4 linked regions of the Homo sapiens genome follow. The protein of the gene in region 3 purifies or fractionates together with the protein of the main gene of each other region. This does not show direct contact. Each region holds a gene or a part of one and is shown on either strand. Other genes may lie near its edges.

Evidence for each region. Proteins that work in one complex are often made in the same cells at the same time.
Region 1: the proteins of P2RX1 (region 3) and PI4K2A purify together in Homo sapiens (affinity purification with mass spectrometry; one large-scale study listed by BioGRID and IntAct). This does not show direct contact.
Region 2: the proteins of P2RX1 (region 3) and ATP1A3 purify together in Homo sapiens (affinity purification with mass spectrometry; one large-scale study listed by BioGRID and IntAct). This does not show direct contact.
Region 4: the proteins of P2RX1 (region 3) and ATP2C1 purify together in Homo sapiens (affinity purification with mass spectrometry; one large-scale study listed by BioGRID and IntAct). This does not show direct contact.

The regions. Positions count from the first base shown.
Region 1 is NC_000010.11:97,654,171-97,657,670, reverse strand, and holds part of PI4K2A (phosphatidylinositol 4-kinase type 2-alpha), read right to left. Parts: intron 1,387-3,500; coding exon 1,255-1,386; intron 851-1,254; coding exon 697-850; intron 1-696. UniProt on the Homo sapiens protein: Membrane-bound phosphatidylinositol-4 kinase (PI4-kinase) that catalyzes the phosphorylation of phosphatidylinositol (PI) to phosphatidylinositol 4-phosphate (PI4P), a lipid that plays important roles in endocytosis, Golgi function, protein sorting and membrane trafficking and is required for prolonged survival of neurons.
Region 2 is NC_000019.10:41,977,231-41,980,730, reverse strand, and holds part of ATP1A3 (sodium/potassium-transporting ATPase subunit alpha-3), read left to right. Parts: intron 1-1,932; coding exon 1,933-2,125; intron 2,126-2,404; coding exon 2,405-2,580; intron 2,581-2,658; coding exon 2,659-2,795; intron 2,796-3,500. UniProt on the Homo sapiens protein: This is the catalytic component of the active enzyme, which catalyzes the hydrolysis of ATP coupled with the exchange of sodium and potassium ions across the plasma membrane.
Region 3 is NC_000017.11:3,913,666-3,917,963, forward strand, and holds the start of P2RX1 (P2X purinoceptor 1), read right to left. Parts: upstream 2,801-4,298; 5' UTR 2,561-2,800; coding exon 2,424-2,560; exon of another isoform or gene 1,894-2,423; coding exon of another isoform or gene 1,721-1,893; intron 1-1,720.
Region 4 is NC_000003.12:130,900,584-130,904,083, forward strand, and holds part of ATP2C1 (calcium-transporting ATPase type 2C member 1), read left to right. Parts: intron 1-3,500. UniProt on the Homo sapiens protein: ATP-driven pump that supplies the Golgi apparatus with Ca(2+) and Mn(2+) ions, both essential cofactors for processing and trafficking of newly synthesized proteins in the secretory pathway.

The sequences.
Region 1 (3,500 bases), on a different chromosome or scaffold from region 3:
TTGGAAACAGAGTCTTGCTCTGTCACCCAGGTTAGAGTGCAGTGGTGCAATTCTGACTCACTGCAACCTCCGCCTCCCAGGTTCAAGCGATTCTCCCACCTCAGCCTCCTGAATAGCTGGGACTACAGGTGCCCGCCACCACACCCGGCTAATTTTTGTATTTTTAGTAGAGACAGGGTTTCACCATGTTGTCCAGGCTGGTCTGGAACTCCCGGCCTCAAATGATCTGTCCACCTTGGCCTCCCAAAGTGCTGGGAGTACACGCATGAGCCACCACATCCAGCCTGAATTTAAAGACTTTTGTCCTCAATACATGTACATTTTACCAGGTTAGTTGAATTTAAATTGCACTGAAAAAAAATTTTTTTTAAATATCAATGATCTAAACATCTACCTCAAGAAGTCAGAGGAAGACAAAACTGTCCTGTTACAGGTCTTGAGGCTACAAGAATGACTAGGGATCAAGGATAAGAGTACTCTTCACAGTGCTTTGGAAGAGTTAAGTGTCTTCTGTCTGGAACCAGGAAAGAGTGTAAGATAAAATGCAAATACTAACTCCAGGCCTCACCACTTCTGAAAACTACACATGATGTGTCTGGACAAGGTACTCTGACTCCCAAGCCCTGCAAGCCTCCAGGCCTCCCCATGCCTCAACACAGTCTGGCACAGGGCATGGGACCACCTGCAGCTGCTCACCAGTGTTGCGGATGATGTAATCCAGCACCACCAACCGCTCAAACTGGAGCAGTAGTTGCCGGTTAGTGTTCTCAGGAAGAGGTTCTGCTTCAAAACGCCGCAGCCAATAGTCTGCATCTTTGTAGCCTTCAACAAAGAGCTGGAATGAACCAACCTGGAACCAAGAGGAAGGAACAAAGGTTTTTCCCTACTGCCCAAATCCAAAGACCTTTGGAGTATATGCCAGATACCCATTAAGGCCCTATGGAGTTTGTATCAGAGAAGGAAAACTTTTCAAGATCTTTACTTCCTCATTTCTTGCAAGTACAGGAGAAAAGAGATGTAACAGTGATCATCCATCCAAATTAAAGAACCTATCCAAATGAACCAGAGGAGTAAAGTGAAAAGTTAGGTCTCAACTTTTCAAACCTTAGCCACTTGACAGAAATAAGGAAGACAGGATCCTCAGGGCAGGTTATTCACGTGCCCATATTTGAGTTGTAGGCACCTTGCTTCACCACTTGGATGACTATGTCACTATAAATCATGACCCTTGATAAGCCAGAGGTGCGTCTATACCTTTGGTGGTAGCCCGATGCGGTTAAACCGCTGTCCAACTTTTGGCACTTTCTCTAGTGCAAGCCGCTTGCCCCTGGACTTCACTCGGTCAATGGCACTATAGTTGAAGGTCTCACTGGCCAGGTATACTACCTACAGTGAAAGAGAAGAGATACTAAGGTTAGAGTCAAGTTTAAGGAACCAGAAGACTATGGCAGAGAATAAATAGCTTGATGTTCACAAATCCTATTCCTCTTCCAGGGCACAGAAAGAATACATTTCTCAGCCTTCCCAGCAACTAGGAGAGGGAAGATAACTAGTTTGGGCCAATGAAATAATGACAAAATTATGTATGTACAACACTTCCACTGCTGGCAACTAAAATCTCCCACAATCCTTAATTCACATTCTCCAGTCTGTGCAGCTAGGAAAGAAGGGCTGGGAAATAGCAGAGCCACACCATGGAAGAACCTCGGATACCTTGTAACTACATGAGTGATGTGGTATCTAGGAGAGCTGCCTATCTGGCATGAGTCTGAGATGTAATCAAGAAATACACTCCTGGCCAGGCGTGGTGGCTCACACCTGTAAACCCAGCACTCTGAGAGGCCGAGGTGGGCAGATCACTTGAGGTCAGGAGTTCGAGACCAGCCTGGCCAACATGGTTAAACCCCGTCTCTACTAAAAATACAAAAATTAGCCAGGCATGGTGGTGCACGTCTGTAATCCTAGATACTTCGGAGGCTGAGGTGGGAGGATGGCTTGAACCTTGGAGGCAGAGGTTGCAGTGAGCCAAGATCGCACCACTGCACATTCTATCCTGGGTGACAGAGGGAGACTCTGTCCCAAAAAAAATATGATAAAAAAGAAATACAATCCAATTGTATTAAACCACTTAGATTTAAGGGTTGTTACAGCAGCTAGTATGAAGTACAAGGATTAACACTGTCATCTCCTGGGTTAGATTAGGCCAAATGCCCATCTTCTTTCCAGAGACAAACAAGTTGCAATTTACTCTGTACCCCTTCATTTCCTTTTGAAAAAAAATTTTTTTTTTTTTTTTTTTTTGAGACAGAGTCTCACTCTGTTGCCCAGGCTGGAGTGCAGTGGCACAGTCTCGGCTCACTGCAACCTCCAAGTCCCGCATTCAAGCAATTCTCATGCCTCAGCCTCCCAAGTAGCTGGGATTACAGGTGTGTGCCACCACTCCTGGCTAATTTTTGTATTTTTAGTAGAGAGAGGGTTTCACCATGTTGGCCAGGCTGGTCTTGATCTCCTGACCTCAGGTGATCCTCCTACCTCGGCCTCCCAAAGTGCTGGGATTACAGGCATGAGCCACTGTGCCCGGGCCCTTTTGAATTTTTTTACTTTGTGAAATTATTCGTATTCAAAACACAAACATTAAAATTGGTTTTCATTTTAATTAACTGCTATTTTTATGTATAGGCTATACACTGTAATCCTGGCTGCCTCTGAGGAAGGAAACTGAATGGCCAGGAGATAGGGGTAGCAGGGAGTCTGAATTACTTTTCTCTGTTTACCCTATGTGCCTTCTGATTTTTATACTAGATGCATGCATTACTTATTCTAAAAAAAATTTTTATGAGCCATCAATATTATACTTAAGTCAAATTGCAGTGACGTAATTGTAATCCACATATGCATCTATTGTCACACTTATCACATTGTCTTGTAATTATCCATTTGTATATCTAACTCCTCCTTTAAAATGAATGAGATTTGAGGAAGCGGAGAACATCTTATTTATATTAGCATCCACAGCACCTAACACAGTAGCTGGCATATGCTCATTAAATATTTATTAAGTGAATGAAGAATGAGTTACAAGCTTCTTTCAGAGACAGCAACAAGTGAGTTTTAGCATATAAATACCTAAAATCAAACTTATAAGAAAGGTATTTTCCTAAGCCTTGTAAAATTTATTACAAATAACTATTTTTTTTCCCATGAACCTGAGAGGCAAAATAACTGCCTCTCATCTATCGCTCCATGCTACCATCTAGTATTAATAGACTACCTAAAATGGATGTGCATGGTACTGTAGTAGGCACTCCCTGCCTTACAAATCAGAAAACTCAGGCATAGGAATGAAGGAAAAAGAGCTTTCCTAAGGCTACCTTGCCAGTGTCCACAGTGAAACTCCTGGCTCTCTCAAGCCATAAATCCCCTTTTGCCCCCATCATATTTATTTTCTATCATTCTTCCTAACAAACCACTTTTTCCCCATGACTAATGAAACTATCATA
Region 2 (3,500 bases), on a different chromosome or scaffold from region 3:
ACCGTGTTAGCCAGGATGGTCTCGATCTCCTGACCTCGTGATCTGCCCGCCTCAGCCTCCCAAAGTGCTGGGATTACAGGCATGAGCCACCGCGCCCGGCCTCAGTAAACTTTTTTTTGAGATGGAGTCTTGCTCTGTCGCCCAGGCTAAAAGGCAGTGGTGTGATCTTGGCTCACTGCAACCTCTGTCTCTGGGTTCAAGTGATTCTCATATCTCAGCCTCCCGAGTAGCTGGAATTAGAGGCGTGCACCACCACACCCAGCTAGTTTTTGTATTTTTAGTATTGATGGGGTTTCATCATGTTGGCCAGGCTGGTCTTGAACTCCTGACCTCAAGTGATCCACCCACCTCGGCCTCCCAAAGTGCTGGGATTACAGGCATAAGCCATCATGCCCGGCCCATTCAGTATACATTTTTTGACCAGCCACCACATGTTAGGCCCTGTTTTGGGTGCTGGGTGTACACACAGTAGTGAGTGACATGGTGAAGTCACCCCTCTCTGAGACTTACGCTCTGGTTCTAGAAGACAGACAATAACAAAGGCATGAGGAGGTAATCGTAGTGGTTGTGGTGCTGAGGGAGGGAACCCTGCAGGTGTCTGGGGGAAGAGCGCTCCGGTAGCAGGCACAGCCTGTGCAAAGGCCCAGAGGCGGGAGTGTGCTGACGCATCTGAACACCAGCCAGCCAGCCAGTGCAGAGGGGCTGGGAGCCAGGGAGCGTGGTGGGGGTGGTGGGTGCTGGCCAGATCCTGTCAGGCCCCACGGGCATGGAGAGGACTTGGCTGTGACTCTGAGGAGCACACAAGCCTCCAGGGGGCTCTCAGCCAAAGAGAGACAGGAGTTGACTCAGAGCTTTTAAAATAACTTTATTAAGATATAATTAACATACCATAGCTCGTCCCTCTAAGTGTATAATTTAATAGTTTTAGTATATTCGCAGATATAGGCAGCCATCCACATAGTCAATTTTAGAGCATTTTCATCACCTCCAAAAAGAAACCCCACATCTCTCAGCTGTCACCCGCCCCCTCCTCCCCGACACTCCCAGCCCTAAGCAACCACTAACCTACTTTCTGTCCGTATGGTTTTGCCTATTCTGGACATTTCATAAAAATGGAAGCATACAGCTGGGTGTGGTGGCTCACGCCTGTAATCCCAGCACTTTGGGAGACCGAGGCAGGAGGATCGCTTGAACTCAGGAGATGGAGACCAGCGTGGGCAACATAGGGAGAGCATGTCTCTATAAAAAATTAGCCAGGCATGGTGGTGTGGACCTGTGGTCCCAGCTACGTGGGAGACCGAAGCGGGAGGATCGCATGAGCCTGGGAGATCAAGGCTGCAGTGAGCTGTGATCTCGCCACTGTTCTCCAGCCTGGGTGACAGAGTGAGACCCTGTCTTAAAAAAAAAAAACAGGGTGGGAGGAGGGGAGCACAGACGTGGTGGCTTATGCCTGTTATCCCAGCACTTTGAGAGGCCGATGAGGGCAGATCACTTGAGGCCAGGAGTTCAAGACCAGCCTGGCCAACATGGCAAAATCCCGTCTCTACTAAAAATACAAAAGTTAGCTGGGTGTGGTGGTGGTGCCTGTAATCCCAAGCTACTCCGGAGGCTGAGGCAGGAGAATTGCTTGAACCCAGGAGGTGGAGGTTGCAGTGAGCTGAGATCGTGCCACTGCACTCCAGCCTGGGCAACAGAGCGAGACTCTGTCTCAAAAAAAAAAGAAAAAAGAAAAAAAGAAAAAGAAAAAGAAATATATATCCATGACATAGACAGAGCGGACAGGAATGAGCAGAGGTCTCTGTGAGAGAGTGTGGGGGAGCCCTGGTGTGGGCCTATCCTGGCACCCGTGGCTCTGGACAGGGGACAGGATGGGGCAGGGAGCTTCCTGGTGTCTGCGTGGCTCAGGCACGCCACCCTCTGATCGGTCCCCAGCTCTCCATCCATGAGACCGAGGACCCCAACGACAACCGATACCTGCTGGTGATGAAGGGTGCCCCCGAGCGCATCCTGGACCGCTGCTCCACCATCCTGCTACAGGGCAAGGAGCAGCCTCTGGACGAGGAAATGAAGGAGGCCTTCCAGAATGCCTACCTTGAGCTCGGTGGCCTGGGCGAGCGCGTGCTTGGTGCGAGGCTGCCGGGCGGGCTCTGGGGTCCCTGGAGGGCAAGGAGGGTTGTGATGCTGCCCAAAGCCTGTCTCAGCCCAGGGCCTCCCAGAATATACTGTAAATGAATGAATGAATGAATGAATGGATGGATGAGAGGGGAAGGTATCCTAGGAAATGAATGCTGACTGGCCGTCTTGCTGATGGGGAGATGGAATGCGGGCGATGCAGACATCTAGGGGCATGGGGCGGAGGTTCCGAGGCTGGGACCCTCACACCCCAACCCTTCCCTGCCACTAGGTTTCTGCCATTATTACCTGCCCGAGGAGCAGTTCCCCAAGGGCTTTGCCTTCGACTGTGATGACGTGAACTTCACCACGGACAACCTCTGCTTTGTGGGCCTCATGTCCATGATCGACCCACCCCGGGCAGCCGTCCCTGACGCGGTGGGCAAGTGTCGCAGCGCAGGCATCAAGGTGTGGCTTGGGGTGGCTGGGGGAGGCAAAGCCAGGCGTGGGGCGGGAGAGGCCATCCCTAAAAAACAATGCCTGCAGGTCATCATGGTCACCGGCGATCACCCCATCACGGCCAAGGCCATTGCCAAGGGTGTGGGCATCATCTCTGAGGGCAACGAGACTGTGGAGGACATCGCCGCCCGGCTCAACATTCCCGTCAGCCAGGTTAACCCCCGGTGAGCCACCCATCCCAGCCAGGGCCCTGGACATCCCTCTAGGGTGTTGACACAGGGGGACCGCTTCCCCCCAACCTCCCTCTGCACTGCCTGTCCCATTCTTTCTGGGACTCCTCCATGGACCAGGCCCTGGGTCTGGCCCTCCCTCCGGTGTGGGGACATTGCAGCCACAGAGGTAGCCAGGCATAGGTTTGCATCCCAGCCTTTATTTTATTTTATTTATTTATTTATGTTTTTGAGATGGAGTCTTGCTCTGTCGCCCAGGCTGGAGTGCAGTGGGGCAACCTCAGCTCACTGCAGCCTCCGCCTCCCGGGTTCAAGCAATTATCTGCCTCAGCCTCTTGAGTAGCTGGGATTACAGGGGCCCTCCACCATGCCCCGCTAATTTTTTTTTTTTTTTTTTGTATTTTTAGTAGAGACGGGGGTTTCACTATGTTGGCCAGGCTGGTCTCGAACTCCTGACCTCAGGTGGTCCACCTGCCTTGGCCTCCCAAAGTGCTGGGATTACAGGCGTGAGCCACTGCGCCCGGCCTGCATTCCAGCTTATACCGCTCACAAGCTGTGTGACATTGGGCAAGTCCTTTAGCATCCATGAACTTCAGTTTGCCCATCTCTAAAATGGGCTACTAATAATTCCTATCTCAGAGGATTCAGTAGAATCCAGTACTTCTGTGTCTGTCTCTCTTTTTTCCTGTCTGTCTGTCA
Region 3 (4,298 bases):
CTGGCGTTTGTCCCTCTGTCCAGGTCTGTCTCTGTGTCCACCCATCCCCCACCCAGGCTTTGCCCTGTGTCTGGGACACGGGGGCCTGGCTCTTCTCTCATGCTCCTTTCCATCCCCTGGCAGTGCCCACAGGATCAGACATGAAAGCAAAGCCCTCCTCAGGAAACAGCAAAGTGCTGAGCTGAGTGCACTCTTGGGGGGGGTGGTCCCCTGCAACCCGTGCCCCACGGGCCGGTTAGGAAGCTGAGTCCGGAGATGCCAAGACCAAGTCCAGGCTGGGTCAGGGGTTCGGTTTGCCGCTGTGGGTTCCTGGCTGAGAGGTCAGTGCAGTACTGAGCAGTGGCCAGACGAGGGCGCAAGAGACAGCAGGCACCACAGCCTGAGCAGGAGCTGGAAGCCTGGGCCTGCAGCCCTGGGGGTTGCTGGTGATGACGGACTCTGCCTTCCTTCCACCCTCTGCTGTGTGACGTGGGCAGGCCAGTGCCCTCTCTCTGAGGAGGTTGCCTTTCCAGAATATCAAGGCTGACTTTGGAGCCATGCAGGTGGGTTCAAATCCTGGTTAGTCTCTTACTAAGCTGTGAGATCCTGGCTAATCCCTGTGGTCCTGAGCCCCACAGACACCGAGAAGGGCCACATCCATTTGGAAACTGATTAGACAGTCTTGGGAGGGAAGACAGGCAGGAGGACGGTAGTGAGGTCCCCGTCACTGGAGGTATAGGTTCCCGGCTGGGCAGCAGCTTGGGGCATAGGCTACGGCTGGGAATGGGTGGGTCCCTCCAACGCTGACAGCCTGTGACACACACAGAGGAGGGACCTGGTGCCCCTCACACCTGCAGATCTGAAAGCAGAACTAGGGAGCCGCAGGGGCAGAGAGAGGACAGCCTTCCCCCAGCCTCTTCCAGCAAGGGTAGGCTGGGCCTGCGCAGACAGCCTCTCCCAGGGACGGTCAGGAGTGATACTAAGGGTGGACTTCCGGCCCGTCCTGTACCTGGCATCCCACCATCAGTGCCCAGTAGAAAGGATCCACAGCCCCTTGTGATGGTGAGGAAGGAGAAGGCACAGCAGAGGCCTGGGGGTCAGGAGGGCTCAGCTGCAACCCTGGGTTTGCTGCTGACTTGCTGTGGACCTGGAAACCCCACTGCCCCTCTCTGGGCCTCAGTTTCCCTCACAAGCTCAGACATCACAGATGTCAAATTAGTTTCTGAACAAGAGAGAGGAGAGGTCAAGGCTGGGGTCTGGCCCTGGGTCCACCTGGCCGGCTCTGAGGTTCTGGGGACTGGTGGGACAGAAGGAGGGCTCTTTTGGACGCCAGAAGTTTCCGGGGGACTAGGACTTCATGGTCCTTGTTTGGGCCCTGGGTCAGCCTGCCCTGGACTCCATTTAGCAGTTCTGGTTCGGAACCATGGTAAAAATGGGGAGGGTAGAGCTCTCAGAATCACACGGCAAAGGCAGGCAGGGGCTACTGGGCACCCCTAGGACCCCAGCAGGGGCTGAGCCCCCTCCAGTGGCCCTGGGGCCTCCAGGAGACCTCTGCAGAGTCACTGTGAGTGGACAAGATGCACCACACACAGGGGACACACACTGGCCACCCAGACACTTGGCCACAGGGCAGACATGGGCACAGCCATATGTACACATAAGGGTACCCACATGTGGGCACTCAGCACCAGGGACACACACCCAGACACATATAGGCACAGAGCTCCATATGCACACTCACAAGTGTGCCAGCCTCTGCCAGGCCTGTCTTGGCTCCCGAGACAACCATACTGCAGGAGCGTCCCACGCTGCCTCTGATTCTGCACTCCCAGCCCGGTGGGACAGGTCCGGAGATGCCCAGAAAGGAACTATCATCCCTGGGACCAGAACCAATCTCTGTCCTCCGCCTGACATGCCAACATGAAGGCACCAGGTATTCAGAATGTGAGAGTTTCTCTGCTCCGGGGGCCTCAAACGTCCCTGGATGTCCCTTGCTCAGGCAGGGAAGCTGGCAGCAGAGTCTGTCTCTCTCTAACTTGTCATATGGGGTGACGGGTGTGGGGTATGGCCTCTGTGTGTCAGTGGCGGCCTGGTTTGGCAGGCGGTCAGAGGTCGAGGACTCAGTGGCTGTGGTTGGTGGTGCCCTGGCCCTGAACACCACTAACCACTCAAAGGAACCATAACACTGAGCCGGCTCCTCAGAACCCAGAGACTCTGCCTCCTGTTCACCGAAGGCCCCCGGGCAGGGCTTCCCCTCCGGCCTCGTCCCCATCTCAACAGCGAGTTGGCAGGATTTTCTATTCTCGCACAGTGGCTTGCCAGGAAGGCCTTCCCCTGGATGGAGAGGAAGAGGGGCTCGCTGGTGTCACGCAAGGGATGTCAGAGTCTGGAGGACAGGCCCGGGGTAGGGGCTGGTGCAGGCAGCGGGAGGCGCCCGGACTCACCCGATGACGTAGACCAGGACCACCAGCTGGATCAGTCGGAAGATAACGCCCACCTTCTTATTACGCACCAGCACCATGCGGGGGGTGTCATACTCGAAGAGGAAGGCGGCCAGCTCCTCCTGGAACCGCCGTGCCATGGTGGGCCGGCTGGGGCTCAGAACTGAGCCCCCTGCACGGCCTCTGCTCTCAGGGTGAGCCGGGTGCCACCACCCACGTCGATGGTAGAGCTTCTGGGGGCTTCCTGGCCCCTTAGGAAGAGCAGGGCGGTGCAGGTGGAGCCAGAGGACAGGAGCCAGAGGTCAGCTGGAGGCACTTGGGTTGGAGAGAGAATCCCTGGGTGATCAGAGCAGCTCTTGGCCCCTGGAAGGCAACAGACTGCAGGCCAGCCTCGCCCATGGACAAATAAATTCCCAAAGATAGATGGGGCGGGGCTGGTGGGGCCACCCAGGCCCAGCCCCACTGCCCCTCCTGGCTCTGCGTGGGCCTTGTTGGGCCTCCGGAAACAGGAGTTGTTGGCAGGAAACCACAGGCCACCCGTCACAGGGGCAAAGATAAAGCTCTCAGTCGACTCCTCAAGTTATCCTCCCCCCAAAACCTGGCAAGATGGAGCTCTGGCCAGGGCCTGGGGGAAGCTGGAGTCTCCTCAGATTAGGGGACTCCCCGCGACTCCCCTCCACTGCCAAAATGAGACCTCCATCCCCAGCCCCATCCACCACCCTCCACCCTCCCCCACCAGGGTTGGCTGCTTCGTCCCTGGGGGTCTGCAGCGAGCAAGGCAGAGAGGAAGGAGGCTCTGAGTTCCAGCCTGGCCTGTGCCCGGTCAACCTCGGTGCTGAGCTGGCATCTCTATCCCCCAGCTCTCCTCTCCCACTGTCTGTCCTGCCGGGGCCACCATCAGAGGGAGAGAGGTGGCAGGTGCCCAGCCAAGACCAGCACCACATCCGTCACCAGTGCCATGGGGGGCCCAAGACCAGCCGAGAGAGCCTGACCTCGGAGATCCCTGGCTCTGCCACTTCTTGGCTGTGGGGGCTGGGTGTCACCTTGCCTCTCCGAGCCTGCTTCCTCATCTGTAAATTGGGGTAATAAGGGCTGTTCCTTCTAGGTCGAGGCTCACAGGGGATGGGTCTCAGCAACACGGGACAGAGAACTGGAGGCCACCATTGAGTCTGGGGCACAGCACCTCTGCAGTCCCTGCCTTCCCTTCCCACCCCCAGCTCGGGCCCTGAACACAGGGGTTTGGGGTGGGCAGAGGGTCCCACGTTGGCTCCTCAGAGCTGGAGGCCTCCCCAGCCCCACCCCTCGTTTTGAAGATGAGAAAACCAAGCTCAGAGAAGAGAAATGAGTTGCCCAAGCTCACCCGGGGTGGTACTGGAGGTTCAAGCTGGAAGCAGGGGCCTCCCTGGCGAGCCCCCACGGCCCTGTCGTCGGAGCCGCCCCACCCTTAAGGCTGATAAGGAGTCTTCTTGCTGGCGAGCCATGAGCTGGAAGTGCTCTGGGCAGGGAGCCAGGCCCTGGGGCTGGGAATCCCGGCAGCCTGTCTGAATGGGGGTCACCCACAGAGGGCTGCCCATGGCCCCTTCCAGCACCCAGGTCAGTCTCTCCTTGTCAAGTAGATCAGCCTCACCCCTCGCGGAGTTTCTGCTAATCCAGTGGGTGTCATGGGCTTTTCTAAAGAAAATCCAGAGATGCTGGGAGCCAGAACTGTGGTGGCCACGTCTCCCCTTGGCCTGACCTTGACCCTAGACAGTTCCTTTCCCAGCTGCCCCTGTGGCCATTGGAATGGGAGGCACCAGGACACAGCTGCTTGTGATGGGGAGTGGGGTGGGTGCTGAGACTGTGTGGGCCATTCTGGGTCCCTTTTCAGCCACCCTTCTC
Region 4 (3,500 bases), on a different chromosome or scaffold from region 3:
TATGTAAATGTGTTTTTTTGAAAATTTAAACACGCAAAGTAAAAATTAAAAGTTTTGGTTAAGTTGTGAATTTCAGAAATTTATCTTGGTTATGGTGTCCTGAAGTTAAAAAGAATAGAGCATTAGTACATTAGTACATAAACGTTCTGTTATTCTCTGCCTAAGGGCAAGATCCAACTTTGAACCAGGTCCTGGATTTCCTCTCATCTTAAATCGGAGCCTTTTTCATTTGTAGTATAAATAAATTAGCCTTTTGATGCTGTGATTTTATTTGTATATGTTATATATGAGATTTATATCTCTCTTTGTATGCAGGCATTTCACTAGATTTTGTTTGGCCATCTATTTTTAGTGTTTCCCTAGCAGCATGTTTGCTTTACCTGCCTTCATCTAGGTTTCTACATCATCAGGGGTGGAAATATTAGTTGGCTTAATTAAGCTTGGGAGTTGTACCTTACTTGCTCTGTTGAGTGTCAGTTCTACCTTCTTTTGAAGCAGGCAAAAGCAGTTCATGGCACAAATGCCAGAAATAGCATGCAAACCACTTTGTAGTGGTATGCAAACTAATTTCTGCTGTGTCCTTTTCTTAATGCTTGTGAGGGTTACTGTTTACTTAAGAGTTAATATTTGGCTTATGAAACTAGTATCAGATGAGAAATTCCAGCATCCCTCCCCACCCCAGAGAAAGATGTGGTCATTGGGGACTGCTCTGAAGTCTGCCAGCCCTCTATCCTAAAAGTTGGTAGATCAGTTATTATATCTTGATATGTACCCCTAATTCATATGAGGGGCCAAGAGAGATTAGTTACTCCTGATTTCATCTGTTAGAAGATAAAGGGAGTGTGGTTTGTATCTATATTAGAGTAATGGGAATGAAGGGTAGGGATGGATGACAGAGATATTTTACTCCTAGGAAAAATCAGCAGGACTTGGACAGTGACTAGATACAGAGAATTAAGGGAATAGTTGAATCAGACATGACTGCAAGATGTCATTTGGGTCAGTGAAGGTGCCATTGATTGTGGTTGAAGGAGTGAGCCGATTTAGGGGCTGGCTGAAGGGAATATATAGGTCAGACTGTCATGATGTGAGGCTCATATAGCTATGCATGGAGAGAGGTGTTAAATCAAGCACCAGGATTCAAAGTGAGCTCTTGAAGGCAGAGACCTCAATTTGTCCTTTATTCATCTTGAACAGACTCTGGGACGTACCTACTGTCAATTGAATGAAAATGCTGGCTTCTTCCTTCTAAGTGGTTCTCATCTCAGGATTGTTTTGCCCCCGGGGGACATTTGGCAATGTTTAGAGAAATGCTGGGTTGTCACAACTCAAAGTATGCTACTGGCATCCAGTGTGTAGAGACCAGGGATGCTGGTAAGCATGCTACAATCCGTAAGACAGCATCTTCTACCTCCCCCCGCCACCCTCAAAATTTTTTAGCCCCAGATGTCAATGGTGCCAAGATTGAGAAACACTGTTCTAACAAACGGCAAGGAAGTTGACTCCTCTAAGCCTTGGTTTCCTCACTTGTAAAGAGATTATGACTACTTCAGGTTTGTTAGAATTAGACCAGGCAGGGTGTGTACAAGTGCCTGGCATGAAAGAGCCTCTCAGCAAATCCTAATTTCCCTTACCTTACTTGATGAATAGATTTAGGGGAGTTACTTTTGGTCTTTTAACTGCTAATTTCAAGGCTTCACGTTTTTTTTTTTTGTTTTTTTTTTTTTTTTTTTTTTTTTCTGAGAGGTGAGTGGGATGCCTAGGAAACATAGAGTAGCTTTTATAATCTTAATGCTTTTCTCATGGTTTTATCAAATTATGATTTTGATTATACTTTGGTTTGGGTTTGTACTATTTCAGGATTCAGTATTTAGTGTTCACCTAGCAGTAGACAATGAAGTTAAACCCTTAGTGTAGATCAATGAAGTTAAGCCCTTAAATTTTACTTTTTAGCCTGTAAATACATTTTATGTATTATTTATTGCTCACAGAACTGTTATTGTTTGGAAGCAATTTTACTATTCTTTGAAATCAAGACCAAAATGTACTGAATTTTATTTCTCATGGAAAATGCTAGACCTCCTATGTCTATTGCCTTTTTCCTTTTTATCCATTTATTCTAACTAGACCCCCCCCGAAGTCAGAACTCTTCCTTAGATTTCCTTTTTAGGGTCTTCATTAGGTGGCTTTCTTTTGCTTGTCGGGTGTCTTTTTACTTTATTTTGTAAGGTGTTGAATATTCCCTTTATTTTGTAAGGTGTTGAATGTTTCAGTGGTGTTAGGGACAGGACCACCGATATTTTCATCTCTAATACCAATCCCTTAGTGATCTATTCCAGTCATAGCCTCAGTGTTTAAAGTCTCCTTACATGTACATAGTTGTGTGGCATTCTCATTTTTAGGGAGTCACTGGAATTCTTTGCTGCTATTTCTTTCCTTTTAGGAAAAAAACCGGTTTACTCTTACTATACATTATTTTCTCCATCTATAGAATGGAATTACTGTAGGTAAAAGTCCTTGAGTTCGGTAAACTATGTATTGGACTTACTAATGTACGTTTTATTAATTGCAGGTGGAATTTAGAAATAACCTGCCTGTTTTTCATCTTAAACTAAGATTATTTAAATATTCCATTCATTAATTAGTTGGTTAGAAAAATTAGCTTTTGAGGAACACCACTTAAACATGGAAAATAATAACAGAGTACATTTTGTGACAGCAAATAAATTATCGGTTAACTTAACCCTATAGGATTCAAAGTTGGTAGCTTTAAATGATATTAAATTGTATTTGACTGTCAACTGCTTTTAAAGGCTTACGTGGCTCCCCATTGTACCTGTAGTTATTTAGGTCTGGAAGCACAGGGTGTTAAGAATGCCACCATAATGTCTTTTCATAAGGGTTTGGTTTGTCATAGCCTGTAAAATTAGGTTCACCAGTTAGCTGCTTTATGAAATGAATGTCATTGGTCATGGTGGGGGAGGTATTAGGAGAAGGTATAAAGGAATCTAAAAAAACTTTCTTTCTTTCTCTCCCTCCCTCCCTTCTTTCCTTCTGCCCCTTCCTCCCCCCTTTCCTTTCCTTTTTCCTCTTTCCCCTTTCCCATTTCCCCTTTCCCCTTTCCTTTCCTTTCCTTTCCTTTCCTTTCCTTTCCATCTTCTGTATTGCTAGTAAAATAATTGTTGCTCACTGAAGGCTTTAAAAAACACTGGTTGCATGCTTAATATAGGATGGCAACAAAATGGACGGGTTTAAAAAATATGTAGATGGTATGATACCCCTTTCCTCCATCCTTGTACCAAATTTCTTTCAAACCTAGAATAATTTATACAAACAGATGTATCAGTAGATGGAGTATTATGCCCACTTTTTAATTTAATGATCAAAAAATGCCAAATTCTTCCCAGAGTGGCAGTATAATTCAGATGTAGTTAACTGTTGGATGCAAATTCAATTATGGTAGAAAGATTTACTTTACTTTGAGAGGTTTTTCTAAAATC